Linked DNA regions of Homo sapiens. The protein of the gene in region 1 purifies or fractionates together with the protein of each later gene. This does not show direct contact. Each region holds a gene or a part of one and is shown in the gene's direction. Other genes may lie near its edges. The genes, in order: FOXS1, ACOX1, PPP2R1B and MIPEP.

Evidence for each region.
Region 2: the proteins of FOXS1 (region 1) and ACOX1 purify together in Homo sapiens (affinity purification with mass spectrometry; 3 studies listed by BioGRID and IntAct, with this or other methods). This does not show direct contact.
Region 3: the proteins of FOXS1 (region 1) and PPP2R1B purify together in Homo sapiens (affinity purification with mass spectrometry; 3 studies listed by BioGRID and IntAct, with this or other methods). This does not show direct contact.
Region 4: the proteins of FOXS1 (region 1) and MIPEP purify together in Homo sapiens (affinity purification with mass spectrometry; 3 studies listed by BioGRID and IntAct, with this or other methods). This does not show direct contact.

Annotation. Positions count from the first base shown.
Region 1 is NC_000020.11:31,843,803-31,850,274, reverse strand, and holds FOXS1 (forkhead box protein S1), read left to right. Parts: upstream 1-4,670; 5' UTR 4,671-4,732; coding exon 4,733-5,725; 3' UTR 5,726-5,972; downstream 5,973-6,472. Other genes in the region: DUSP15 (dual specificity protein phosphatase 15), read left to right, coding at 401-537, 1,372-1,469, 1,710-1,871. UniProt on the Homo sapiens protein: Transcriptional repressor that suppresses transcription from the FASLG, FOXO3 and FOXO4 promoters. May have a role in the organization of the testicular vasculature.
Region 2 is NC_000017.11:75,976,165-75,983,862, reverse strand, and holds the start of ACOX1 (peroxisomal acyl-coenzyme A oxidase 1), read left to right. Parts: upstream 1-4,696; 5' UTR 4,697-4,789; coding exon 4,790-4,898; exon of another isoform or gene 4,899-5,072; intron 5,073-5,169; coding exon 5,170-5,329; intron 5,330-7,698. UniProt on the Homo sapiens protein: Involved in the initial and rate-limiting step of peroxisomal beta-oxidation of straight-chain saturated and unsaturated very-long-chain fatty acids.
Region 3 is NC_000011.10:111,742,369-111,749,393, reverse strand, and holds part of PPP2R1B (serine/threonine-protein phosphatase 2A 65 kDa regulatory subunit A beta isoform), read left to right. Parts: intron 1-1,379; coding exon 1,380-1,440; intron 1,441-5,863; coding exon 5,864-6,018; intron 6,019-6,728; coding exon 6,729-6,871; intron 6,872-7,025. UniProt on the Homo sapiens protein: The PR65 subunit of protein phosphatase 2A serves as a scaffolding molecule to coordinate the assembly of the catalytic subunit and a variable regulatory B subunit.
Region 4 is NC_000013.11:23,837,399-23,844,423, reverse strand, and holds part of MIPEP (mitochondrial intermediate peptidase), read left to right. Parts: intron 1-2,935; coding exon 2,936-3,089; intron 3,090-4,697; coding exon 4,698-4,775; intron 4,776-6,667; coding exon 6,668-6,872; intron 6,873-7,025. UniProt on the Homo sapiens protein: Cleaves proteins, imported into the mitochondrion, to their mature size.

The DNA of each region.
Region 1 (6,472 bases):
AACCCTAACCACTGAGCAGGATTGCTGGTTTCTCATGAGACGCTGCTAGGTTGTTGTTATTGTCGCTGTTATGGTTATTTCTACCTGCATCAAAATCTTTGCTGGGAGGAAGCTCCTAGAATCCCAGAAGATTTGCTGGGAGGGTCATGCCCTCACTGTACAGATGGCCCCAGCTTTTAACCGCAGAGCTCGACTATCAGTTCGTTTATACTGGAAGCTATTGTTTACTACTATTATTACTAGAATTCTTATCATCACTGATAGGGAGAGAGCACCCAAAATTTCCGAGGTAGAGGCTGGGACGACCTCTGGGTCCGGCAGAGTTTGAAGGGGAGGGTAAGAAGGCGAGGGGAGCTAGCGCCGCCCACGTCCAGCCCGTGCACCCTCTCTCGCCCCACAGCCTGCTGGCTGCACGTGTGGCTCTTCTCTCCGCAGCGCTGGTGCGCGAAGCCACCGGGCGCACAGCCCAGCGCTGTCGTCTGAGTCCGCGGGCGGCCGCCGAGCGCCTGCTGGGGCCGCCACCTCACGTTGCAGCAGGTTCGCTTCCCCGACCCATTGCCCAGCGCCCACGTGTTGCAGGGCCTGCCGCCTCACCTGGAGCGCGGTGTGCAGCTCTGGGTGGCTCCGGAGGGCGTGTTCACCAAGCGCCTGTGCCAGGGCCTGTACTGGCGCAGCCCAACAAGGTGGAGCGCAGGCGCACCTGCCACCTGCTGAACACACGCGGCTTCCTCCAGGCGGTAGGACGGCTGGAGGAGTGGAACAGAGTGGCGTGGGAACGGGGGCATAAGGACGCGGTGGGCAAAGGAACATGAACAGAGGAGAGTGGGCACATTAAATGCAGGCCCAGGGGGATGGGCCTAAGGGTGCTGGGCATGAAGTGGACATTGACACAAAGAATATGGCACAAAAGCACCAGGGATGGGAAAGAATACAGGCACCAGGAGGGCTGGGGGCACATATACGGATACAGGCGTATATGGGGTGCTGGCATGGAGAAGGCTTGAGGCGTTGGGTGTGCAGCATAAGAATAGGGCTTCGGTACATGTGTTGGCTTAGGGCATAAGGTGGATGTGAGGTGCACCAAGCACGAGATAGGTATAGGTGAGTGGCAGTGGGCATGGGTTGGGCATAAAGGCATGGGGTGGGCATAGGGGCCAAGGAAGAGACATAAGACCTGGAAGTGGGCACAGATGTGGGACATGGGACAGGCATAGGAACGTGGAAGTGGGCCTAGGGTACAGGCACACAATGGGATGTGGGCTTACAGGACTTGGGCATGGGAAATGAGCACAAGATGGGCACCAGTGGGTTGCCTAGTTCTTGCCCAGTCCCTATAGTCTCAGTGTCGTATAATTGTGTGCCCACCTGCAGGATGGTCACCGGACCCAAAGTACCAGATCTGTCTGTGCTTCGGTGAGGAGGACCCGGGCCCCACACAGCACCCCAAGGAGCAGCTCATCATGGCGGACGTGAGTCACTCCTTCCACTCCAGCCAAGAAGCACGCCCTCCAGTCCCCTCCAGACAGCCCTTCCCACACTCCCTCCAGTCCCAGCTCTGCCTCTGACACTTCTAGCACCCTCGGGTCTGTAGGACCCTACCTGGAAAATGGGGGTAGGGATGGGGCTGTAACTAGGGCTGTGACTTCCCATGGGAACATCCGAGGCGGGAAATGGAGAGGGTCTGCTCATCGCCCCACCCGCCCCCGCAGGTGCAGGTGCAGCTTCGGCCTGGGAGCTCGTCCTGCACTCTAAGTGCCTCAACCGAGCGCCCAGATGGGTCCTCAACCCCTGGCAACCCCGATGGCATCACTCACCTTCAATGCAGCTGCCTCCATCCTAAGCGAGCCGCTTCCTCTTCTTGTACCCGCTGAAGGCAGCCCCCAACAGGGGGGCTCCCTACTCCCACCCAACCCTGCCCACACTAAGCCCATAGACTTGGGGCCTCCCCCGGCACATCACCCAGGTCTGCCGGACGGCAGAGGTGGATCGCGGCCTTCCACTCCTCTGTCACGGGGCCCCGGAACTCGAGAGTAGGCCACACCGCCCCCCAGCTGGGCATGGGGCTTCGGCAGGAAACTGAACTTGATCTTGAGGCCCCAGAAAGGCAGCAACTGGAGCAGAAGCAAGACTTCATCTCTTGCTGACAGCCCAATTTGTCAATAGCGCTTTCCTCAGAGCCAGCCTTAACCTGCTGTTGAGTCCATTAAAACGTTTGCTTAAAGTTTTTACCAATAATTAGATCATCAGGGTTGTTTAGTGTGGGATCAAGCCATAACAAAACTGCCTAGCCTCTCAGGGGCCTAGAATTTACAGAACCTTCCTCCTCCCTGCAGCTAGTCTCTCTTCTTTATTCTGGGGGCTGGGAAGGATCCCAAAACAGGGAACTTGGCCGAACCCTGGGCTTTGGATGCTAACCACTGAAGTACCAGCACCTGTAGGATGCTGTCTTTGAAGAAACTGAGGCGGACCTCCAAATGCAGCCCTAAGGCAGAGGTCAACGTGGAAGACCAGCCCTTCTCCAAGCCCCACTGGTCTTTGCAAGCTGTACGTTGTAGGCAATCTGAGAACTGGAAAGGGGGACTACAACCAGAAAGTTGGTTACCCTGCCATGGGAATAAAGTAGCTGTTTTCCACCCCACATATCAGGCCTTTTATTCTTTTCTGAGTTCTGATTTTATTTATAGGAATCCTCTTACAGATGCCAATATTGTAAGTCTCTTTTAATGATACATTAATAAGCCACCTTCATGGGGGGAAAACTGTGATTCGATAAAGGACAGAAATCAATCAATTGCTGTTTGTTTAGTCATTTAGCAGACATTTCTTGAACACCTACTCTGTTCCAGGCCTCTGTTCCAGTGTCCAGTGTGTGACTCTGGGGGTACAGCAAAACAGCATGCTCTTTACTCTCTTGGAGTTCACATTCTGTTTTCTAGTGGGGACCCAGCGACTCTCCGCTACCCCTGCCCCTCACTGAAGAGGCAGTATTTAGGAATTACAGAATCCTAGGCTCATATCCAGCTTTGTCACTCACTAGATGTGGGACATCAGGGAATTTACTTACCTTCTCTGAGCCTCAGAGCCCTCATCTATTCAAAAGAAGCAATGAAGCCCTCCAGAGCAGGGTTGGTTGAAGAAGTAAGTGTAGGGTTGGGGAGGTGAGCTGGCCTGGTACAGAGTGGGTGAGCAGTGACTTGGGAGTGGGAGAGCAGAGAGGATGCCGTCCCCTCCTCCAGAAGGCCTGACTGTTCTGGGCCTGACTCTCTGGACCTCCCGACCCCAGGCTGCAGCTGGGGTAGCCTCAGTTCAGAGTGACAATCCGCAGCCATGTTCATATCCCTACTCCATACTAGGCTCTTGATGAGGGTGCTGCATTCTGTGTAAGGGGAACCTGTTGCCTCCCCACCATGGCCTGGACAGCTGAGGAGTCACCAGCTCCATGTTAGAGATGGGGAAACTGAGGCTCAGCCAAGGTCTTGAGGTGCCTCTTGGGAGGGAGAATGTCTCTCCCCAGATAGCTGTCCTTCCCACACCAGTCACTAGGGGGCGACAGGGATGCAGCAGAACTGAATTTCATGGGCTCTCCTTACCATCCTAGGTGCCCCTCCCTGCAGACACCCCAGAGCTAGGAGGATGGGGTAGGAGTGGTGTGGCCCCAAGGCCTCTGCACCGCAGGAGAAGGCAGTAGACCACAGGCCTGGGAGAAGAGGGAAAAGCAGGAGTAGAGGTAGGGATTAGAGAAGCCCCTGGGGCTTCTCTCACTCTAGGGGGACTGGGCTCAGGCCCTGCCTCTCTCTCCTCTCTCTCTCTCTCTCTCTCTCTCTCTCTCTCTATTCATTCCTTTCACTCCTTGTGTTTGCACCTGTGTCTCTCAGTATCTCCTTTCTCTCTGGCTTTGTGGATTTCCTTGTTTCTGCCTGCTCAGTGATTCTCACTTTCTCCGTATACTACGTGTGTGTGTGTGTGTGTGTGTGTGTGTGTCTGTGTCTGTGTCTCTGTGTTTCTGTGTGTGTATGTCTCTGTGTGTCTGTGTATGTGCTTGTGTGTGTGTCTGTGTGTATGCCTATGTGTCTGTGTGTGTCTGTCTCTGTGTATATGTGTGTGTGTGCTTATGTCTGTGTGTGTGTGTCTGTGTGTGTGTCTGTGTCTGTGTGTCTCTGTGTGTCTGTACGTGTATGTCTGTGTGTCTCTGTGTGTCTGTACGTGTATGTCTGTGTGTCTCTCTGTGAGTGTCTGAGAGGCTCTGGGTGTCTCTGTCCGTTGTGTCTGCCTCTGTCTTATCTTTGTCTCTCCCTCTTTCTCCCTCTTGTGATGTCTCTACCTCTCTCTGTCTCTATCTCTTTTTTCCCTGTCTCTGTTTCATATGTTTCTGCCTCTGTCTCATTTTGTTTTTGTCTCTGTCCCGCTCAGTTTCACATCCTGTCCCTCCCCAGCCACCACCACCCAGCACACGTGGGCTGAGGGTCTCAGTCCCTTCCTTCCCAACTCCTCATCCCTGGCAGCTGCTCGGCTTCCCACTACTGGCCTCTCCTGCCCGCCTCTTTTGGGCCTTGTGGGAGTGGGGCGAGGGAGGAGGGGAGGATGGCTCAGCAGACCCACCCCTTTTTGCCTTTCCAGGCTGGGAGGCTGGGCCAGTGGACCTTTTAACCAGCCTGGGCAGGCTATTCCGGACGCCAGCCCTGGAAGCTGAGCCTGACCCAGCAGGTCCCAGCAGCCTGGCAGCCCGGCCAGCATGCAGCAGCAGCCTCTGCCCGGGCCTGGCGCCCCCACAACTGAGCCAACCAAGCCTCCCTACAGCTACATCGCCCTTATTGCTATGGCCATCCAGAGCTCACCGGGGCAGCGGGCCACCCTCAGTGGCATCTACCGCTACATCATGGGCCGATTCGCCTTCTACCGCCACAACCGGCCCGGCTGGCAGAACAGCATCCGCCACAACCTGTCACTCAACGAGTGCTTTGTCAAGGTGCCCCGCGATGACCGCAAGCCAGGCAAGGGCAGCTACTGGACGCTGGACCCTGACTGCCACGACATGTTTGAGCACGGCAGCTTCCTACGCCGCCGCCGCCGCTTCACCCGGCAGACAGGTGCTGAGGGCACCCGGGGCCCCGCCAAGGCACGCCGTGGACCCCTCAGGGCGACCAGCCAGGACCCAGGAGTCCCCAACGCCACGACCGGCAGGCAGTGCTCATTCCCACCAGAGCTGCCAGATCCCAAGGGCCTAAGCTTTGGGGGTCTGGTGGGGGCCATGCCAGCCAGTATGTGCCCAGCAACCACTGATGGCAGGCCTCGGCCACCCATGGAGCCCAAAGAGATTTCCACGCCCAAGCCTGCATGCCCAGGGGAGCTCCCCGTGGCCACCTCATCTTCCTCATGCCCAGCGTTTGGCTTTCCTGCCGGCTTCTCAGAGGCTGAGAGTTTTAATAAGGCCCCTACGCCCGTCTTGTCCCCGGAATCAGGCATCGGGAGCAGCTACCAGTGTCGGCTGCAGGCACTGAATTTTTGCATGGGGGCTGACCCAGGCCTTGAGCACCTCTTGGCCTCAGCAGCCCCCTCCCCTGCACCACCCACCCCTCCAGGCTCACTCCGGGCCCCACTGCCCCTGCCAACTGACCACAAGGAACCCTGGGTTGCAGGTGGCTTCCCTGTCCAGGGAGGCTCCGGCTACCCATTGGGGCTGACCCCCTGCCTATACCGGACGCCAGGAATGTTCTTCTTTGAGTAAAGGCAGCCTCACCTCGGGCAGTCCCTGCAGGTCCCTCACCCTCCGGGCTGAGCCTGGCTCTAGGACCTGAAGAACTCTCGAAGGACCCAGCCCTGGTGAGCCAAGGACAACCACACAGAAAGCCAGGATTGAAGCGGTGCTCAGCCAGGCCCCTGGGGCCTCCGGACAAACTTGGGGGTGAGGGGAAGCAGGGCCTCTTGGGATTTACTCTGTGGCTCTCAGGGCCAATAAAGCCATGTGATGATGAGGGTCAGCTTGCCTGATGGCTGGGGGCTGAGGGCCAGGGTGCCTGCTTGTATGTGGGGGTGGCTGTGGCTGTGGGGTTGTGCAGCGGGGGCAGAGACCCTTGGTGGGAATATCTCACATGAGGTTTTCTCCTGCTGGGGACTTTCTCAGGGAGTTTCCTAGAAAGGGAGAGGAAGGGGAGGTAGGGAATGGGGAGCAGGGAGAGGAGGATACAGGCAAGGGAGAGACTGGGCAGGGGCAAGACTGGGCTGGCCTGAGGGACTGATTCTCCAGTCTCAGATGCTGGGACTTAGCCCCCGTAGGTGCAGTCATCATAACCCTGACAATTTGTGACACTGATCCTGTCCCGGGCTTGTATGTATCATCTCACCTGTGTGATTTGGAAAGTTGGCCCCGTTTACAGTGGTGGAAACAGGCTCGCCAGCTCCAACTCCAGAGGGCAAATGGGTGGCAGAGGGTAAATCAAAACCACATCTGTGTGGCTCTACCCTCCAGCCTCTG
Region 2 (7,698 bases), on another chromosome or scaffold:
CAACAACTCCACATGGACCCCACCCACCACTCCTGCGGCCCCCCTCAGAGGTGACTCAGCCTGCAGGAGGACCATTTGCCACACCCCTAAGGTTGCACCCCCAACCAATCAGCAGCAAGCACCCATTGCCTAGCTGCCACCACCCCTTCCCCGAAACTACATTTAAATAATGTCTAATCTCTGAGCCTTCCAGAAGATTGACTAATAATACCAACTCCCACGTGGTGTGGCCAGCCTTGTGTCAATTAGTCTTTCTTGACTGTAATGCCATGCTCTCCATGAAATGATTTCGTTTGTGCTGTGGGAACCCATCAGGTGGTTATAGAGGTGGCATAGGCTATGAAAACACTGGTTGTCTAAAACAGGGGGAGATAACAATTATGAAGGGCTAGTGTACACGAGTGTGTGCTCACTAACATGAGGGGACTAAAGGAGTGTCCCCACTAGATGTTCCTGTTTTTCTGGTGGATCTGGGGAAAAAGAGGTGGGGAGGATGCTGGGGTTGCTATGCAATTCTCACCGAGGGAGGAATTTGCTGGTATAATGATTATACATTTTTCTTTCTTTCTTTCTTTCTTTTTTGAGATGGAGTCTCGCTCTGTCTGCCAGGCTGGAGTGCAGTGGCGGGATCTCGGCTCACTGTAACCACTGCCTCCCGGGTTCAAGCGATTTTCCTGCCTCAGCCTCCTGAGTAGCTGGGAATACAGGCGTGTGCCACCATGCCCGGCTAATTTTTGTATTTTTAGTAGAGACGGGGTTTCACCATGTTGGCCAGGCTGGTCATGAACTTCTGACCTCAGGTGATCCACCCACCTCGGCCTCCCAGAGTGTTGGGACTACAGGCGTGAGACACCTCACCGGGCCTCTTCCTTTTTTCTTTCTTTTTTTTTTTTTTGAGCCAAGGCGGGCAGATCACTTGAGGTCAGGAGTTCGAGACTAGCCTGGCCAATGTGGTGACACCCCGTCTCTACTAAAAATACAAAAATTAGCCAGGCATGATGGCGGGTGCCTGTAATCCCAGCTACAGGGAAGGCTAAGGCAGCAGAATTGCTTGAACCCGGGAGGCGGAGGCTGCAGTGAGCCGAGATCATGCCACTGCACTCCAGCCTGGGCGACAGAGTGAGACTCTGCCTGAAAAAATAATAAATAAATAAATAAATAAAACTATGATCAATGCTTGAGCCTAAGAGTTTGAGGCTGCAGTGAACTATGGTTGCGCCACTGCATTCTAGTCTGGGTGACAGAGCAAGGCCTTGTCTCAAACAAAACAAAACAAAGCAAAACTATGATCAAATACATGTGTATGCCTTTTCTCCTATTAATCACTTGTGTGGTATTCCTGCCAAAAATGCATCATCTGAATCTAATCATGAAGAAATATCAGACAAATCTGAATTAAGGGACATTCTACTGTAGGTGCCAAGGGGCCCTCTGAAGTTTCGCTGCAAAAAATCAACTTACAAAAGGCAGAGTAATAGTCAAAAATGTGTACAAATTTATGTAACATGTACATATGGGAGCCTTCAGAAGGAAGACCCAAAGATACAGGGGAAATTGTACATTTTTATGCAAATGATTGAACATAAAAGGTATGATCTAATGCTGATAGACTGAGTGGGGAGGCCCAGCAAGGCCTGTCTGTCTAGATTCTTCTTGGCCTCTTGGAACAGGCATTCCTTCCTTCTGGGTGTGGGGGAGGACCCTCTCTGGAATGGAGTCTTATGGCCTACAGTCAAACAAGCTAGGTCAGATAATTTCTTTTTGGCCAGTTTTTACACCAAAAGAAGGAGGGAAAGTTAAGAGTAATATATTTAGGGTTTTTTTTGTTTGTTTTTTGAGACAGAGTCTCACTCTGTCGCCCAGGCTGGAATGCAGTGGTGCAATCTCGGCTCACTGCAACCTCTGCCTCCCCGGTTCAAGCGATTCTCCTGCCTCAGACTCCCGAGTAGCCGGGACTACAGGCACATGGCACCTCGCTCGGCTTTTTTTGTATTTTTAGTAGAGACGGGGTTTCACCGTGTTAGCCAGGATGGTCTCGATCTCCTGACCTCGCTATCCACCTGCCTTGGCCTCCCAAAGTGCCAGGATTATAGGCGTGAGCCACCGCACCCAGCTTATATTTAGGGTTTTATGGCTGGCTTTGGGGGTAAATGACTCTGTTTTCTATGACCTGCCTTGGGGAAGAGGATTCTAACTTCTCTGGCTAGGCTCGGGGGAGAATGCACCTGAGGGAGAGGAGGACAGAAGGTAAAAAAAAAAAAAAAAACAACTTGCTTTGTGGGTTGCTTCTGAGGCCTTCATTTTGGGGTATTGTTTTCTGAGACCCAACACTACAAAACAATGGGCTTATACACTTCAAAAGTGTTAATGTCAGCCAGCCAGGCGCAGTGGCTCACGCCTGTAATCTCAGCACTTTGGAAGGCTGAGGCGAGCGGATCACATGAGGCCAGGAGTTGGAGACCAGCCTGGTCAACATAGTGAAACCCTGCCTCTAATAAAGACACAAAAATTAGCCAAGTGTGGTAGTACATTCCTGTAGTCCCAGCTACTCTGGAGGCTGAGGCATGAGAATCATTTGAACCCAGGAGGCGGAGGTTGCAGTGAGCTGAAATCATGCAACTGCACTCCAGCCTGGGTGACAGAGGAAGACATCATCTCAAAAGAAAAAAAAAAAGCGTTAAAGTCACAGAAGAAAAGTTCTTTGTTCTATTCTTGTAATTCTCGTGTAAATTTGAAATTATTTCAAAATAAAAACTCAGCAAATTTAGCTCTTCATCTAAGTCTTTTCTATTCAATGCTAAGTACACCCCTTATCATTGTTACATTAAGAGCAATTGGTTTCCTAGAATATTAGAACTAGAAGGTCAGCTGTCAAGCAGCCATTTGTTCACTCCACAAAGATTTCCTGAGCACCTTTAGCGGGGCAGGCACTGTGCCAGGTACAGAGAATAAACTAGACACCCTCTCTGCTGTTGAAGGGGCCTGAGATCAGCAGCTTAATAAGACAAATGAGGATCCTGAGGTCCTAGGGGTTAAGAGTGTGTATTATAGTTCTATTATTCAAATTATGAATGTTATGCATCTCTCGTAGTTTTACTTCTGAGAAAACCAAAGTCATAGTATTACACAGACTACAGACAGGCTAGGCGCAGCGGCTCACGCCTGTAATCCCGGCGCTTTGGGAGGCCGAGGCAGGTGGATCAACAGGTCAGGAATTCGAGACCAGCCTGGCCAACATGGCAAAATCCTGTCTCTACTAAAAATACAATTAGCTGGGTGTGGTGGCGAGCCCCTATAATCCCAGCTACTCGGGAGGCTGAGATAGGAGAATCGCTTGAACCCAGGGGGTGGAGGTTGCAATGAGCTGAGATCATACCACCACACTGCAGCCTGGGCGACAGAGCGAGACTCCGTCTCAAGAAAAAAAAAAAAAATGACTAGAGATGATTCAACAAATCCCTGAATCTCCCTTGTCTACAATCCCACTGGGCAGAACTGTTTTTGTTTTTTGTTTTTTTTCTGTAGAGACAGGGTCTCACTATGTTGCCCAGGATGGAGTGCAATGTCACAATCTTGGCTCACCGCAACCTCCACCTCCGGGGCTCAAGCCACCATCCCATCTCAGCCTTCAGAGTAGCTGGGACTACAGGCGCATGCCACTACACCCAGCTAATTTTTTGGTATTTTTTGTAGGGATGGGGTTTTGCCATGTTGCCCAGGCTGGTCTTGAACTCCTGGGCTCAAGTGATACGCCCGCCTCGTCCTCCCAAAGTGCTGGGATTCCAGGCGTGAGCCACCGCGCCCGGCCCTACACTAGGTTTTAACAGTAAGTGTGCATTTCCCACTTTGATGACGGTGATGGCGAAAGCAAAGAAGTCTGGATTCCAAGACCTCTAGTAACTGCCAGGTTGCGGGGGAAAATGTCTGGTTTCCCAGACAGAAGGCTTAGAGCAGCACCGCCCGCTTGGTCTCATTCTAAGTCCCCGTCCACCCCTTGAACAGCGCTCACAATCCCACACCCAGGGCCCCGGAACCCACGCCTCTGCCAGTAAAGACGCCATTATCTTAACAAAAGGTAACTGGAGCCTCTCCCCAAAGAGACTGGTTCCCGTCCCATTCTTCTCCAATCCGGGTGGATTTGGCAAAAGCCCAAGTGACCCTCCCTAGCAATTCCGCAAAGCCCCATCTCCCGCCCCAGACTCCAGAGTCTCCCGACCACTCTCATTTCGGAGAGGCCTAGGGGCACGGACCCGGAAGCGTGACAGAGGCCGCGGGGTAAGAGGGGGGCAAGTGCAGGCGCAATCCCTCCTCAGCCTCGTTGTCCCGCCCCCTTCCCAAGGCCCCAGCCAACCTGTTCTAGGCGTCGCCGGTCCTCGGATTTCTTCTTTCCGCCTCGCGTGGTCACGTGACGGGGGAGGGGCGGGATACAAAAAGTGCTTTATTTTCCCACTCCCCGGACGCCCAGCAGGGCAGTTTCTTGACCTTCGGAGCCCCTTTCCCGAGGATCCGCTCGGGAGCCTCCCCTGGCCAGGAGCAGGGGATTAGTCTGCCCCGCGACCGGCCCCAGCCACGACGCGGACATCGCCCCCTCTGTCTGGGCCGCTGTCACTCACGCGCCAAAGGGCCACGGAGAAAGAAGGGGCGGGCCGGGGCGGGCCGGGCGAGCGGAGGCGGGGACTTGCGCCGTCCTGAGGCTGCCTCCTAGGGTCCGGCCGGCGCTGGAGCTGCGGATTTAGATTGTCACTGCCACCTCGGTCGGTGCTTACTTCGCTGCCAGCTGGTCGTCGCCATGAACCCGGACCTGCGCAGGGAGCGGGATTCCGCCAGCTTCAACCCGGAGCTGCTTACACACATCCTGGACGGCAGCCCCGAGAAAACCCGGCGCCGCCGAGAGATCGGTGAGGGCGGCGGGCGAGACCTCCCTCCTTTCCCGAGAAAAGCTGGAGACTCCCTCGATGCGGAGTCAGGGGCGCTGTGGGGCCTAGGCCCTCTGGCCCAGCGTTAGGGGAGCCGGGACCCCCACTTCGAGGAACAGCCTGTGTCCCTGGTGGGGGGATATCGCCATTCCCCAGGTGTGTCCGCGACTCTGAAGCCTATTGTGATTCAGGGAGGGTGGAACGGAGGCCCGAGTGTCTGTCTGCCTTTTAATGCCCTTTAACCCCCTTTCAGAGAACATGATCCTGAACGACCCAGACTTCCAGCATGAGGACTTGAACTTCCTCACTCGCAGCCAGCGTTATGAGGTGGCTGTCAGGAAAAGTGCCATCATGGTGAAGAAGATGAGGGAGTTTGGCATCGCTGACCCTGATGAAATTATGTGGTTTAAAAAGTAGGTATGCCTTAGAACAGAGCAAGTGTTGTTAAGCCTAAACTTTACAGCTGCGGTCTATGGTGGCCTTTCATCACCGTGCTTGGTGTTTGAAGATGCAAACTGGCATATTTTCATGCAACTTTATAAAGTTATATGTGTGGCCGGGCGCGGTGGCTCACGCCTGTAATCCCAGCACTTTGGGAGGCCGAGGCGGGCGGATCACCAAGTCAGGAGATCGAGACCATTCTGGCTAACACGGTGAAACCCCATCTCTACTGAAAATACAAAAATTAGCCGGGCGTGGTGGCGGGCGCCTGTAGTTCCAGCTACTCGGGAGGCTGAGGCAGGAGAATAGCGTGAACTAGGGAGGCGGAGCTTGCAGTGAGCCGAGATCGCGCCACTGCACTCCAGCCTGGGCAAGAGTGCGAGACTCCATCTCAAAAAATAAATAAATAAATAAATAAATAAAGTTATATGTGTGAAAAATAATGTGATCACTTTTGTATCCAAGCCTTTTCGTGGGATGACGTGTTTGTAGAATGCTGATAATAAATGGAAATGCAGGAGTTTTTGTTCTCAAGAGTACAGTTTCAAGGATGTTGTAAAAGCATTGTTCTGCCCAAGCAACTCAAATTTGACTGATTTAAATGCAGAATCATTTTGCTCTTTGTAAGGAGGACTGCTAAAATTCTGAATCTGGGAGCATTTTTTTTTTTAGTTGCACGACCATTTAAATATTTTGGAGCAATAGCAGATTATATTATATGGTAGTGTGGACCTGGATGAAGAATGATCTGTGACGCCTCTGAATGAATAGAAAGTCTAAGAACCCAGTAGTTCTGAATCCATGACAGTGCTTGAATGGTTGTCTTGTGCATATGAGAGAGACGTCATAAAAACCTGCCTTGGTTCTAGTGTGGAAGAGAGTATATCCTTTTTTCAGACCATGTGTTTTGTTGTGTTTTTTGTTTTTGTTTTTGTTTTTTGAGACGGAGTCTCGCTCTGTCGCCCAGGCTGCAGTGCAGTGGCACGATCTCGGCTCACTCCAGCCTCCACCTCCCGGATTCAAGCGATTCTCCTGCTTCAGCCTCCTGAGTAGCTGGGATTACAGGCGCCCGCCACCACACCCGGCTAATTTTTGTATTTTTAGTAGAGATGGGGTTTCGCCATGTTGCCAGGCTGGTCTCAAACTCCTCACCTCGTGATCCACCCTGCTCCACAAGGAACGGTAAAAATAAATAAAAATAAGGACTTCGGGCCGGGCACAGTGGCTCATGCCTGTAATCTCAGCACTTTGGGAAGCCAAGGCAGGTGGATCACTTGAGGCCAGGAGCTCGAGACCAGCCTGGCCAAAATGGTGAAACTCTCTCTACTAAAAATACAAAAATTAGCCGGGCCTGGTGGTGCGCTTCTGGGGTCCCAGCTATTCAGGAGGCTGAGGCAGGAGAATCCCTTGAACCTGGGAGGCAAAGGCTGCACTGAGCCGAGATCACGCCACTGCACTCCAGACTGGGCAACAAAGAGAGACTCTGTCTCAAAAAAAAAAAAAAAAAAAAAAAAGACTTTTTTGCCTTAACCTAAACAAACACTATTACATGATCCTAGTACAAGATTATTTTGGCCTATAGCATTTTTTTCTCATTTATTCCTGGGCATTTTCTCTTTTAGGTTTCTCCATTTTAAAGGAACTCCAGTATTTTCATCGGTAAAGACTAAATCGTATGAGTGGTGTATAGACTAGAACCAAGCTAAATAGAACATGTTGCACGTTCTGCCTTTATGGTAATAATGGTCACTGCCTCTAGTGCCTTTGGTATCGATTTTCAGCTTGACTTGGGTTATTTTTGTGAAGATGAAATGGTTTACTCTGGCACTTTGGACTTTCCTCAGAGCTCCACTCAGTTTTAAACGAAAAAATTTTGTTTATTTATTTTTGGTAGTTCAAATCAGCATACTTCCAAATGGTCTGTTTTGTTTTTGAAGTTTGTAACTCATGGCTGTGGGGATATTGAGATAGAGTAACTCCTCCTAGAAGATTATGTTACTGATACCTGTGTTGTGTTTGTAAATTTGAAAAAATTAGTAAGATTTTATTCCTTCTTGAAACGTCAGGAAAAAAGTGGGTTGAGTGTGTGTGTGTGTGTTTGAATGGGTGGTGCAGTGCATTTCAAAGCTGATAGAGATGATTTCATAACCTGTGACCTGTTGATAATGTGAACCAGACTCGAGTGAGGTCACAATGAAATAGAACAAAGTCTTTTATGCGGGTTAAAGATTCATGGACACCGGGAAGTTGTTTTGTGTATCATTTTTCATGTGAAGTATTAAAGTACAAACTTTAACACACCCTTTGACACACTTCCAATGTCCTTAGGATATGACAAGGA
Region 3 (7,025 bases), on another chromosome or scaffold:
GAGAATTGCTTGAACCCAGGAGGCGGAGGTTGTAGTGAGCTGACATTGCACCACTGTACTCCAGCCTGGGCGACAGAGAGAGATTCCGTCTCGACAACAACAACAACAACAACAACAAACTGGAAAATAAAAGTTAATTAAAACTGAAGGAAAATTCTCAACCTGAAATGAAAAAGAAATCTTGGCTGACGTAATCTAAGTGTATGCCAAAATTTGTTCATTATGATCTTTTAGTACAAAGCAATTTTGGGCCAGGTGCGGTGGCTCATGCCTGTAATCCCAGCACTTTGGGAGGCTGAGGCGGACGGATCATCTGAGTCAGGAGTTAAGAGACCAGCCTGGCCAACATGGTGAAACCCTGTCTCTACTAAAAATACAAAATTAGCTGGGCATGTGCTGCATATCTGTAATCCCAGCTACTTGAGAGGCTGAGGCAGGAGAATCACTTGAACCCGGGAGGTGGAGGTTGCAGTGAGCTGAGATTGTGCCACTGTACTCCAGCCTGGGCAATAGAGTGAGACTCCATCTCAAAAAAAAAAAGCTATTTTGTCTTATTCAATCACTATTTTCAAAGCACTGACACATTATATTACCTCTCTTTTTTTAAAATATAGAATCACCAGTCAGGAACTTCTTAGAGTTCAAAGAAGCAAGACTGTAAATGTGTAGACCCCAGAAGGGAGGCACTAGGAAAGTGTGTCACAGCATTCTCCATGTGGTGTGGAAGCCCCGGGGTTAGAGGACTGTGTAAATCTGCTCCCGGAGCCCATCCCCAGCCTGCACTGAAGTGGCCACCTGTTGACAGTCGGGAGGAACAGGGCTGGGAGAGCAAGCCATGCCTGGGCCATATGCCCTGTAGTCCTGGGCCTGCTTTATTCTCCCTCCAGGGCTTTCTCCTGTTGTCTCGAAAATACTCTCTTTAACTGGGGATATCTCTATGTCTTGAGGTCAGTTGCTTTATCCTTAAGGATTTGTCATAATAGTAACCAAAAAGGGAAGACGATTGAGAATTAGTAATATTACTGACAGGTGTTTTCCTGGGTAATTCATTTTTACAGGTAATCCAGATTTGCTTGGCAGACCATACACAGTGCATTCTTCCTGCTCTTTTGCAGTGTTGTGGCTGACTTCTGGCCACCCTGTTCTCTTTTACCTAGCAGGGCCTATGCCAGCTCACGTATGCTTTTTTTTTGTTTATGATTTCCGTCCAATAAATAGATTTATGGTTTGTTTGTAATTCCTGTGGTGTTTCTATCTCTTATTTGTTTATTTGGAAACAAGTTTTTTTAGCCTTCAGGTAACCTTGGTGTAATGTAAATAGACCATCTTTATTTCTGAATTTTGGCAATGTATGTTAATGGAATCTTCTGTATCTGTAGGGTGTGGAATTCTTTGATGAAAAGCTGAATTCTTTATGTATGGCTTGGCTCGTGGACCATGGTGAGTAGATAAAAACAGATTATTGAAAGCCCATATATCCATGATTTTCATACATTTCCTTTTAGAAAGGAATCTCAGTCTGACCAGATATTTTGCCTTAATATTGTAGGAATGAAGAAAGGCTCTAATTAAAGTTTAATCTTCTGAATATAAATTTGACGTTTCTACCAATTTTTTGTATCTTCGATTTTATTTTCTCCATTAAACAATTTATTTGCATTATTTTCTTACTCAATCTATTACATTATCTTCAGACCATCTCTTTTATATATCTACTTACTCCTCCCTTATCTGAAGATCCTCTTTTTGACCATCCTGTAATTGGTGTCTTCAGCAGCTATACACTAGGTTGTATGGAGATTGGAATCAGATGAAAGGCCTGGGTGGGAGAAATGGCTACTTGGCTTTTTGAGGTGACATAGAAGAGGAGATCTACAGTGAGACAGTAGAGGATTCTTAGGTGTGGGAAACACTAGCTTTGCCATAGGGAGAGAGAGGGCCTGGATTTCTGGTTTGGGTGAAAGGAAGGCTTACTGCTTGTACTCTCACTGCTGCTGCTACAGTGCTAGGAGAGGGTGAGCTCAGGGCAGGTCAGATAGGACAGCAGGAATGAGCAAGTGACTTCCTGGTGAGGCTTCAGGTAGAGGTATATGTGTGTATCCCCTTGTGTGCCAGGCAGCAGTGGGTGACAGATGTACCGTCTCTGCCAGATCCCAGGTCCAGACTTGACAGCTTCAGTGTTGTCTTAGACCTGTTTCGATGAGTGTGAGTGCCCCTATGGGGTCATGTGACATTGTCCTTGAGCTTTGTTTCCATGTTTTGGTGGATATAATAGATAACCTGAGTCAGTTCCACAGTATCTTTTATATACTTGATATATGTATTTAGTGTATCTCTTTGTTCATCTATGGGTGCTTATGCCTGGAAATTTGGGAGGAATGAGGATATTTGTGTCTGCTTATACGTGTGGGTGGTTTTGTTAAAGGCATGTTTGCATCATATGGAGGATCATATGGTTAAGAGTGTGAAGAGGAAGGATGTGAAAAAATATGTGAAAATGTATAAGGGCTTATATATGTGGGTATTTCCAGTGTTTTCAAACTGGATTGTAGACTTCTTTCTCTTTTTCTTCTCTAAAGTTATCTTATTGTGGCCTATTTATTTCTTTTTAAATAAAATTAAAATTTGGCAAATCATAGGAAAGAAATACCACTTTTAAAAAAAATGTTTATGTTATATCTGATAAATATTTGACGTTACTGGGAATGGTGCATCCTAGCAAATCATTCTGTGCTTTTTTAAATTTTATTTTACTTTAAGTTCTAGGATACATGCATAGAACATGCAAGTTTGTTATGTTACATAGATATACATGTGCCATGGTGGTTTGCCGCATCTATCAACCTGTCGTCTAGGTTTTAAGCCCCACATGCATTAGGTATTTGTTCTAATGCTCTCCCTCCCCTCGCCCCTCACCCCCTGATAGGCCTCAGTGTGTGATGTTCCCTTCCCTGTATTCATGTGTTCTGATTGTTCAACTCCCACTTATTAGTGAGAACATGTACTGTTTGGTTTTCTGTTCCCGCGTTAATTTGCTGAGAATGATGGCTTCTAGCTTCATCCATGTCCCTGCAAAGGACATGAACTCATTCCTTTTTTATGGCCGCATAGTATTCCGTGGTGTATATGTGCCACATTTTCTTTATCCAGTCTGTCATTGATGGGCATTTGGGTTGGCCTCAAGTCATTCTATGCTTTCTTTAAAAGTTGGCATTTTAGATTAAGATGGTGTTTTATTTTGAGGAATTTTTAAAGTTCTAATATTCCACAAAGAATTAAATTCCTGGCACCCTTTCTCTGTAAGATTGTCTTCTCTATGCAACTTGATTACTCCTTCCTCTTTTCGGATTTTCTCTTTCAGTTTGGGAGCAGGAGAAACCCTTGTTTATTTCACTGCAGCAGCATGCTGAAGTGGGGACTGCAAGAGTTCCATGAACCAATGAAATAACAGCTCTGAAATTGTTTTGTACTTAATCACAGGAGCTTTTTTGCTTTTGCATTTCAGATAAGTGTTATATAATGATCACTGGATCAGTTAGAGTTTTTGAAACTTTTCCCCTAGTTAGGTAACTACTAAAAGAACATTGTGAAAATTCCAGAGAAGTATAAGGAAGAAAGTATCACTCACCTATATTCCTGTGGTTGAGTAGACAGTTTTGATCAGAGGGAGGAATGTAGAAGGGAAATTTATTTATTTATTATAGGAGAAAGGAGAAGGTATCAGTTATTGAGCATAGATAGACATTCAAAGAAACCTTGCAGGTCAGCCAGGCCTTGAGAGGAGATGGGGAGAGAGAAAGAGACAGAAATAGACAAAAGAAAACAGGCAGAACTCTGGAATGGTTTGCATTCTTCTGAAAACAGTCAGAGGAACCAAGAACATAGTAGGCATCTGGCCAAGTAGAGTTCAGTGCAGTTAAGGTCTTGGTCAAGGCTATGCATGTGTGTTCCCCAGTCTCTGGTTTTTCTGGCAGTAGAGATCCCTTCCTATGGTAATGGCATTATGATAAAAATCTAAAGCGTGTTAAAAAAAATAGTAATTTGCTGAGCATGGTGGCTCATGCCTGTAATCCCAGCACTTTGGGAGGCTGAGGCGGGTGGATGACTTGAAGTTAGGAGTTCGAGACCAGCCTGGCCAACATGGTGAAACCCTGTCTCTACTAAAAACACAAAAATTAGCTGGATGTGTTGGCGGGCGCCTGTAATCCCAGCTACTCAGGAGGCTGAGGCAGGAGAGTTGCTTGAACCCAGGAGGCGGAGGTTGCAGTGAGCCGAGATCTCGCCACTGCACTCCAGCCTGAGAGACAGAGTGAGGCTCTGTCTCAAAAAAAAAAAAAAAAAAAAAATTAGAGGAGAAGACACAAATACTCTAGCTAGCTCCTCTTTAGTGGGGAGGACAGGGAAGGGTTTGGGCCAAAGACAAAGACTATGGATATGAAGGGAAGGAATCTGTATTACAGTAAAACAGTTGACTTGAGTTTGCTCCTTAGTGCATCTGAGTCTTACCGAAAGGTTGCTTCTCCTGTAGACTGTCAGTTTAAGTGTTGATAATCAGTTGTATGGGTCACTTGTCTATGCTGTCTTGCTTGTTCTCAACATCATTGCCCAGAAGGATCTATGAATAGAAGAAGTTGCCTATTTCTTGGTTGGAGGCTTGTATAAATTGCCTAGGACTGGGACTGTGGCTTGGATAGCTATTCCTGCCCTTCCTATCATCCCAGGAAGGTTGGGCCCACCTGGGGAGAGAAGTAGAATAAGGAATTAGTACCTACCACCCTCGATTTGTTAATCTGAGCCCAAATTTTGAGTCTTACTGGATCTGTAAAGTGAAGTGACACCAGGCTTGTTTTTGTTCAGTGCTGTATATAGCAACTAATTGTGAGAGGATTGTAGCTGAGACCTTTATTATCTAGCTTTATGTCTTTGATAAATGATCAAAGGATATAGGGAATTATTAGATGTTAAGGCAGGCACATTGATTCAAAGACATTTGACATCTTGTTTCAACCTAAGCATTTTCATGGAGAGGAAGCAAGTCAGTCTGATGTTTGTATTTGCTGTTGTATAGATGACCACAGTGGCCTCTACACCATTTCCTTGTTGTCTTTCTCAGTCAACGTCGCTTCTCCGTGATGTTGCTGGAATAATCTTGCTAAAATTCCACATTGGTCATCAGGTCACAAGTTTGCTTTAAAAACCCATCACTGTTTTTCCTAATCAAATCTAAGTCTTTCATAATGCTCTGCAGTCTGGGTCCACCCTAATTGTCTAACTTAGAAGTCTCACAGGTTTCAGTTTTTTCTGTTTGTGTCCTGGATACATGTCTTTACCCTTTCTAGGAATTCCTCCCCGCTTCTCTCCACTTACACAGATCCTCCCAAATCTTCACTGCCCAGTCAAGGCTTCTTTCTGTGCCGAAGCCTTCCTAGACCTTCCCTGTTCACTCTTCTCTGCACTGCTACAACCCTCACAGCCTTTACTACACAATGCCACACTTCATTCTAATTGCTCTTACACCATGTGACTTCATGGAGTGTGTTAGCTTTCATTTCTCTGATAAGAGCATATTTCTTGTGAGGGAAAGTATCTTCTGTGTTCTTTTTGTAGCACATAGTAGGCACTTGTATTTGTTAAATAATTGATGATGCATATGGTGAGCTCCTTGCATCCCTTTTCTGTGGATATGCACACTTGGAAACTGAGTTGGAGCTGAGCATGCTTGTCATTGCAGCATGATTACATGTGGAGTCTGATTGCAGAGGGGTTTTGCTTTTGGTCCACATTTGATTTTCATGTAAGTAAACTAGGTTATGCTTAAAAAACAATAAGCGATATGAGAACATGTTTTTGACCTCTTCTGCAGTATACGCCATCCGAGAAGCTGCCACCAACAACCTCATGAAACTAGTTCAGAAGTTTGGTACAGAGTGGGCCCAAAATACTATTGTTCCCAAAGTGTTAGTAATGGCAAATGATCCTAATTACTTGCATAGAATGACCACTTTATTCTGCATTAATGTAAGTATAACATAACTGTTATTGCTAAGCTTAATCATTAAAGCAAAATTATTCATGACTATTTCTGAATTATCAGTATACTGTCTTCTATTTGGAATATATGTCTTGTATTGATTAATTGGAATAGACAGGAGATGAGAGAAAATGTCAATTTTAAAATTCATGTTAAAATCTACAGTATTGGCTGGGCACAGTGGCTCATGCCTGTAATCCCAGCACTTTGGGAGGCTGAGGCGGGCAGATCACCTGAGGTCAGGAGTTTGAGACTAGCCTGGTCAACATGGCAAGACCTTGTCTCTACTAAAAATACAAAAATTAGCCGGGCATGGTGGTGCATGCCTGTAGTCCCAGCTACTTGGGAGGCTGAGGCAGGAGACTCCCTTGAACCTTGGGCAGGGGGCAGAGGGTGCAGAGGTTGCAGTGAGCTGAGATCGCGCCACTACACTCCAGCTTGGGCGACAAGGCAAAACTCCGCCTGAAAAAAAAAAAAACAAAGAACAAAACTACAGTATTTTAAAAGTTCAACTTATTTGTGAATTCTGGTCTAATTCTCTGATCATTTGAATGATTCTTGTGTCCCCCACTCAGCTGCTCAAACTAGAAATATTTTCCTATTGGTCAATTATTTTCTTATTAAATATTAATTTGTTTCATTAGATTTTGGAATTTTTTAAAGTATTTTAAATGTGCCATCTTACTTATTTTTCTAGGCACTGTCTGAGGCCTGTGGTCAGGAAATAACTACTAAGCAAATGCTGCCCATCGTATTAAAAATGGCAGGAGACCAAGTAGCAAATGTTCGCTTCAATGTGGCCAAATCTCTACAAAAGATTGGACCAATTCTAGATACCAAGTAAGATTTTAGTGTTTAGTCTTGTTTTAAAAGTGTACTTTAAATTTTACCTTATAGTGGGGAGTAATTAGCTAAAATTAAGTTCAGGGATTTTCACTTTACTTAAGATCTGGGTTTGCTTAAAGAAAATAATTTAGCAACTATTTTTGAGGAT
Region 4 (7,025 bases), on another chromosome or scaffold:
ATCTAAGAAGATTCTTGATTTTCAGCTTGTTCAGCTTCCTGCTTGTTAGGATGGAGTGGTGACTTTCAACCTCCTCATGTGCAGGAGTGGAAACCTCAAGCCTGGACCACTTCCTTTTATAGTTTATTTTCTCCCCTCTTTCCATGCACTCCTTTCTCTCAGTTCTTCAGTACCTCTGAACTGTTCTGTGTCTTCCTTCCCACCCCTCCCTCTGGTAGTTCAGGGGTCTGCCCTTTACCTTCTCTGCCCGCATCGCCCTTCCCTAATGGCCCTGTCTCCCTCTATGGCTCTAATATCTGTACAGTGAAGTCTCCTTGTTCTCCTTAGCTTTGGGTCCTGAGTGTCTGGTATCTCATGGGCACTTCACAGTCGGTTCCTCCAAAATGGAGTTTATTTTCTGTGAGCCCTCCATCCTCCTCCCATCATTGCACCTCACCCTCCTCTCTTCTCCCACAAACACACCCAGATTCCCCTCTTCCTTTTTTGTGTTCATTGTGCCGGCTGATTCAGTGACTCTACCATCCACTTATTTGTCCAAGCCAGAAACCTGAGTGTTATTCTAGATTGTTCTGTCTTTCTCATCACCCTCCAAATCCAATCACTCACACAGTCCTGAGACGTTTGCATCTCAAAGGAAAAACACATTCATCCCTGACCCCACTGCCCTCTGTCAGAGTTCACCCTCTGAAGCCTGGAAGTCTGTCCTCCTGTCAGCCCTCCCTGCCTCCTGCATTCCACCCTCCATGCTGTCCACTGTGCAGCATTCCAGAAAACATCAGATGCTCCCCTATGGCCTACAGAAGCTGTCTCCCAAATGGCATCTGTAAGCAATTCATTGAGAGTGTAGTCATAAAATATTAGAAATTCTATGTATATTTATTTTTCTTTATCTCAACTTATAAAAATGTCTGCTTTTCTTTTTGCAATGTGATAAAACAATACCACATGCATATACTTTATGAGTGTACTAATAGAAGGTTGAATACTCAAAAGTTATTTTAGTGTGCATTGGTGAGGAAGCTTAGAGGCCATGGCCTATGGTGCATGGTCCCAGTTCCTCAGCTTAGTGGACCAGGCCCTCTGTTTTCTGGCCCCTGCCTGCCTTTTCCAGACTCCGCTCCCATTCTTTCTACATTTATCCCTGCATTGGTAACTGCTTCATCTTTAACCACATCCTTTCTAGAAGTTACCAGGCTATTTTATGCCATCATACTTTAGTTATACTGTCGCTTCTGCCTAGAATTCCTATTATGATTCCCATTTTCCATTCCTCATCCCAGCCCTGCCTTGCAAAGTCTGATTCCTTTTTTTTTTTTTTTTTTTTTTGAGATGGAGAGTCTTGCTCTGTCGCCCAGGCTGGAGTGCAGTGGCACAATCGTGGCTCACTCAACCTCCGCCTCCTGGGTTCAAGCAATTCTCTGCCTCAGCCTCCCGAGTAGCTGGGATTACAGGCACCCGCCACCACACCCGGCTAATTTTTGTACTTTTAGTAGAGACGGGGTTTCACCATGTTGGCCAAACTGGTCTTGAACTCCTGACCTCATGATCCACCCACCTCAGCCTCCCAAAGTGCTGGGATTATAGGCGTGAGCCACAGCACCCGGCCGATTCTTTCTTGATTCCTATCCGAGAAGCTTTCCCTGGTGCTACTCTGCACTCCACAAGTAAAGTCATCATGCTCTCCTTTGCCCTCCCATTTTGCAGTGCTCATTCGTTCATGCTTCAGCACTGTCTGTTGAGCGCCAGCCGTGTGCCCACTGCACCAGGCCCAGGACACAGTGTAGTTGGTTCACTTCTCTGCCTCTTTCAGTGCCAGCTGCTTAGACACAAAGGCTCTTCATTCTTCTCTTCCAGCACCCCGCAGGTTTGCTGACAGCATGCTTGAGTGAACGAACCAGGGAGCGAGGGCACTGGATCATGAACGTCTCTTTCAACACTAGGATTCTGTTTAAAGAAAAATCAGTCAGAAATTAAGGTGTAAATTTGTGGATGTCCATAGCCAAAGTCTCATTTGTTGTGCAATTTATGTTCACTTACTAAACTCATTCATTTATTAGTAACTATGTTTTTATATTTTTATATATAAATTTGTTGTGGGGACTCATTTTATGGAACGAAGTGTTGTGCAGTTCTAGAATCACAAATAAAGCCAATTGAAAAAAAAATGTGTATTTTGGTAATCCTAAAAAGTAGACATATAATGAGAACCTACAATATTCTAGAGCCATTATTTTTGGCTATGGCTATATATTTTGGCTTGACTTAATGATTCAAATGTAAACATTCAAATCACGTATTTTGGATTTGCTTTGGTTTATATTGGAATATATAGAACAGAAAAAGTTATTTTTGGGTGAAGAATAATTCACCTTACTAGTTACGTTGTCTTTAATTTAAGATATCTAACTATAAAACAGATAAGATCTGATTATTTATATTGCAGGCATTTTTTTCATAAATGAATATTTTACTGGATGAGAACTTTAAATTCACTTAATGTGCCTCAGGATTTTTATTCATTTAATATTTATGTATATAGGTCACAAGTTTCTAGAATATAATTCATAAGGTAAGAGTTACCATTATAACTGAAACTGATCATATTTTGCATGTAAGTATGTATAAGGAATGTATACAGTGAGCAGTTGAGACTGCTTAATTGGGTTAGTGAAAGAGTAAATAACAGGGAAGGGACAAAGGTTAGGGAATGATATATCTACCTTAATTACTGACTTATAACTAACACTAGTAATAATCAGACTGTCATTCTGAAGAAAACTGTCTGAAAACCCCTCAAATGATATAAATACACTTTTATGTTTTGAATCCTTCTTTAGCTCCAGTGATCTTAAGTATTAAATGAAAAGTTAATTGAATTTACCTTCAGAAATTGAAATAAACAAAGATGCTGTTGAACCTCTCTTCCTTCTCTTAGGTATAATATTGAGCCCAGCCTATATTGCCCGTTTTTCTCTCTTGGAGCATGCATGGAAGGCCTGAATATTTTGCTTAACAGACTGTTGGGGATTTCATTATATGCAGAGCAGCCTGCAAAAGGAGAGGTGTGGAGCGAAGATGTCCGAAAACTGGTGAGCTCCTCCTGCTCAGCCTGCAGTTGCAGGCATTTACCTTTCGGTTGGGCAGTTGAGTCAACAGCAGTTTCAGGTTTACATCAACTTTGCCCTGACTGAGTGTGTCCCCTGCCTTATTTCTGCTTCACAAAAAAAATCCAAATTGCACTTCTGATTTAAGACACTGTATAAAGGATCCAAACATAAAACAGCAGAGTTTTCTAAAAAAGTTTTTTGGAACTTGATAGAAGGTTGAATATATATGCACCTTCATATATCCACAAATTCTATTTATAGGAAAATTGTCCTTTACTTTGTATATACCTTCATAGCTGTGTGTCCGTTTTGGTTAATTCCCAAATCCATTGGATAAGTGACCTTTTTTCTCTCCAACCCCCATCCCATGTTGTAGGGGCTTATATTTGCATCAGATATTAATTTACGTCCGTGTTCTGATTTATTTAACTTCTTTGATAATAACTTCAAACCTAGCAATCATCTTTCTCCTGTGAAGGCCCACTTTATATGAGGCATGAATATTTTAAATTTTTCCTCATAGGATTTGAGGCTTTGTTGACCTGTGTGTGTCACTAAGGCTTTGTATTGTTTTGTTGTTTGATTTTTGCTAGCATGCTTACCACACTGCTTTCTTCACTATATTTTAAGAAATGTAAACAGTCTCATTGTCTCTCGGCCACGTCTTGTGAGTGGAGAGTAGGTGTGGTGGTGGGATTGAAAGGAGAGTCAGGGTGGGAGGACGTTCATCACTGCATTGATTTACTTCACTATCTGTATTACAAACTTCCAAAAAAGATAGAGATTGATAAAATGCTGAGATATAATAAAAAGAAAAATTTATAAGAGGAGACTGAGAGGACAAAATGCGGGTGATGAAGGGTTTCCCCAGAACTGCAGAATGTGCACTCCACCGGGGTCCAGCACTGTTGTCAGTTGCATTCACTTCTGTATCCTCAGTGTCTTGAAGAGTTCCTGGCACCAAGTAGGTGCTTAACAGATGTTTGATGAACAATAAATATATACTTGCAGGTAGTTTTAAAGCACAAAATCGGGGTTCTCTTTGATGGAATCATTAAATTCTGAAAGAACAAAGAAGGCAAGATGGAGAGTAGTGATTGAGTCTCTCCTATAAGCTATGTCTCTTGGAGAGGGGATAGATAGTAATATTGCTGATTTTTAACTCAAGCTGGGAGCTGCATTGTGGTGTTTTCAAATTCAAGGGTTATAATTTGCTTGGGCGTATATCACGACATTCCAGGATTTGAAGGAAAAATAATTTGCTCCTAAAATTGTCCAGCCAGCACTTCTTCCCAGCTCTTGTGGGTGGTTAGTAAAGGTATTGTAGAGGATAGGCAGTCAGGACAAAAGGCCCTCATGAGGAGGATTTCCTGTCCTGGACACAGAATTCCAAAACCAAAATCATTCAAGAGATGGAGCAGAAGAGGATGCGGGGAAAAGAGAATCTATCTCGAGATAATGTGGGGTGTAGAATGTAATTAAAATGTCTATATGTGTGGCTATGGATGTTTAATATACAGATTCTTGTGTTAGGGATTTTAGAGAATCAGATGGCCTCATTTACCACCAAATTTAAATTTTTTTTTCTAGGCTGTTGTTCATGAATCTGAAGGATTGTTGGGGTACATTTACTGTGATTTTTTTCAGCGAGCAGACAAACCACATCAGGTGATCCTTTCTTTATAAACTGGTCTCTCTAGAACCGATCGGCATTTCATTTGTATTGATGTGAACTTTGTATCATTTTTTAAATTCCATGACATTTAAAAGTTACTAATGATGGTTACCAAATATATACATTTGAAATTAAGATAGAATTTTAAAATTAAAAAGTTTATGGAAATAATTACATCAGTCTATATTTGTCACTTTTATCTGGGTCATGGTATTAATTATAGTAACAATGACAACTGACATTTTATGAATCCTTATTTGTGCCAAACAGTGCACTGAGCCCGTTATACACATCAGCCTTTTAATGTTCGCCTCACCCTTTTGACTAGTTACTCACATTATGAGGAAACTGAAGCCATAGAGGTTAAGCTACTTGGCCAGAAGTGCTAGGACTTGAAGGCATACATCCTGAGCAGATCCCCAACTTTTAACTCTTTTCCATACTCGACAATGAACCTATTCTAAAACTGCGGAAGATACTCCATGTGGAAACCTTACCAACCACCAAGTAGCTCCTTATGTGGAAGACTTGAGGCAGCTCATCTCCTTTTCTTTAGCATTGGCCGACTTTGACAGCCAGTCAGCTTTAGCAGTTTCATGTAGCTTGATGGGAAATGTCAAGAGTTTAGGTTATAAGTTATAACAGAAATAATGTACCTTATGTTTGAATAGTGATTCACAATTTCCAAAGCACAGATTTTAACAGATGTGAGCTTATGAATTCTGGACAGCCACTGTGGGATTTGACAAGGAAGCATTTTAGAGATGAGGCTTGCAGAAGCAAATTATTTTCCGAGATGATTTGTCTAGTAGGTGTGAAAGGTAGGAACAGGGTGCAGGTCACCAGACTCTGAGGCCAGTGTTCTTCCTCTTTGCTTAAATGGGTGGGTGGTGGAGACTCAACTTTAGTGATTAGGAGCCCTGGCTCCTAATAGTCAGCCTGGGTTCAGATCCAAGGTGTGGCAGTTCTAGCTAGGTGTCCTTGGACATGTTATTTAATAATCCTAAGACTAGTTTTAGTTTTATCATCTGAAAAGTGAGATACCTGCTACATAGGGTTGTTGTGGAGAATAAGTGATACAGTGTATGTGAGTCTCAGTGTAGTGCCTGTTTCAGAGTAAGTTATTCTGGCTCCGGATCCCTTGCTTTACACTAGTTTAGATCCCATCTCGTTCAAGTGATAAAAGTCAAGAGAGGCTGGGCGCGGTGGCTCATGCCTGTAATCCCAGAACTTTAGGAGGCTGAGGCTGGCAGATCACTTCAGTCCAGGAGTTCAAGACCAGCCCTGGCAACATAGTAAGACTCCATCTGTACAAAAAAAAATCTAAAAATTTAGCTGGGTGTGGTGGAGCACACCTGTAGTCCCAGCCAATCAGTAGGCCAAAGCAGGAGGATGGCTTGAGCCCAGGAGGTCCAGGCTGCAGTGAACTGCGATCACAACACTGCACTCCAGCCTGGGCAACAGAGCAAGACCCTATCTTAAAAAAAGAAAAAAAAATAGCCAAGAGACATGGAAAGTACCTACTAGTTCATTATCTGACACATAGTAGGGACTCAGAATAAATGTTAGTGTCCCTTCGTAAGTTCTTTGCTGACTTTGTTTCCAGCTTCTGGCACAGCATCATTTCAATGCATGTTTTGGGACCAAAGTAATGAGTTAATCCATAGAAACTGAATGTGTTCTTGATGTTTTAAAAAATTAAAATTTTAGCAGAATAAAAAATGTCAAGAAAAGGTGTATATATGTAAATAGATAGAATAAGAATATAATTAAGTTAAAGTTTGCACTCACACATTTTTGGTGAAATTTTATATTCATTAAGACTGTTTTACTCTTCACATTACCAAATACTTTCTTTTCCTTTTATGTTTTCTGATTCTTAAAGGATTGCCATTTCACTATCCGTGGAGGCAGACTAAAGGAAGATGGAGACTATCAACTCCCAGTTGTAGTTCTTATGCTGAATCTTCCCCGTTCCTCAAGGAGTTCTCCAACTTTGCTAACTCCTAGCATGATGGAAAATCTTTTCCATGAAATGGGACATGCCATGCATTCAATGCTAGGACGTACTCGTTACCAACACGTCACTGGTGAGCCATGAGGAGGGCTTTTATTTACTACAGTCCTTTACAAACATACATTTTCTTTGAATTGGGAAAGGGGCTTTTTATTTGGAAAATGTGATCATTTTACCGTGTCCTGTGGTCTTTATCTCAGATTGCCTCATCCTGCCCTCCCCATGG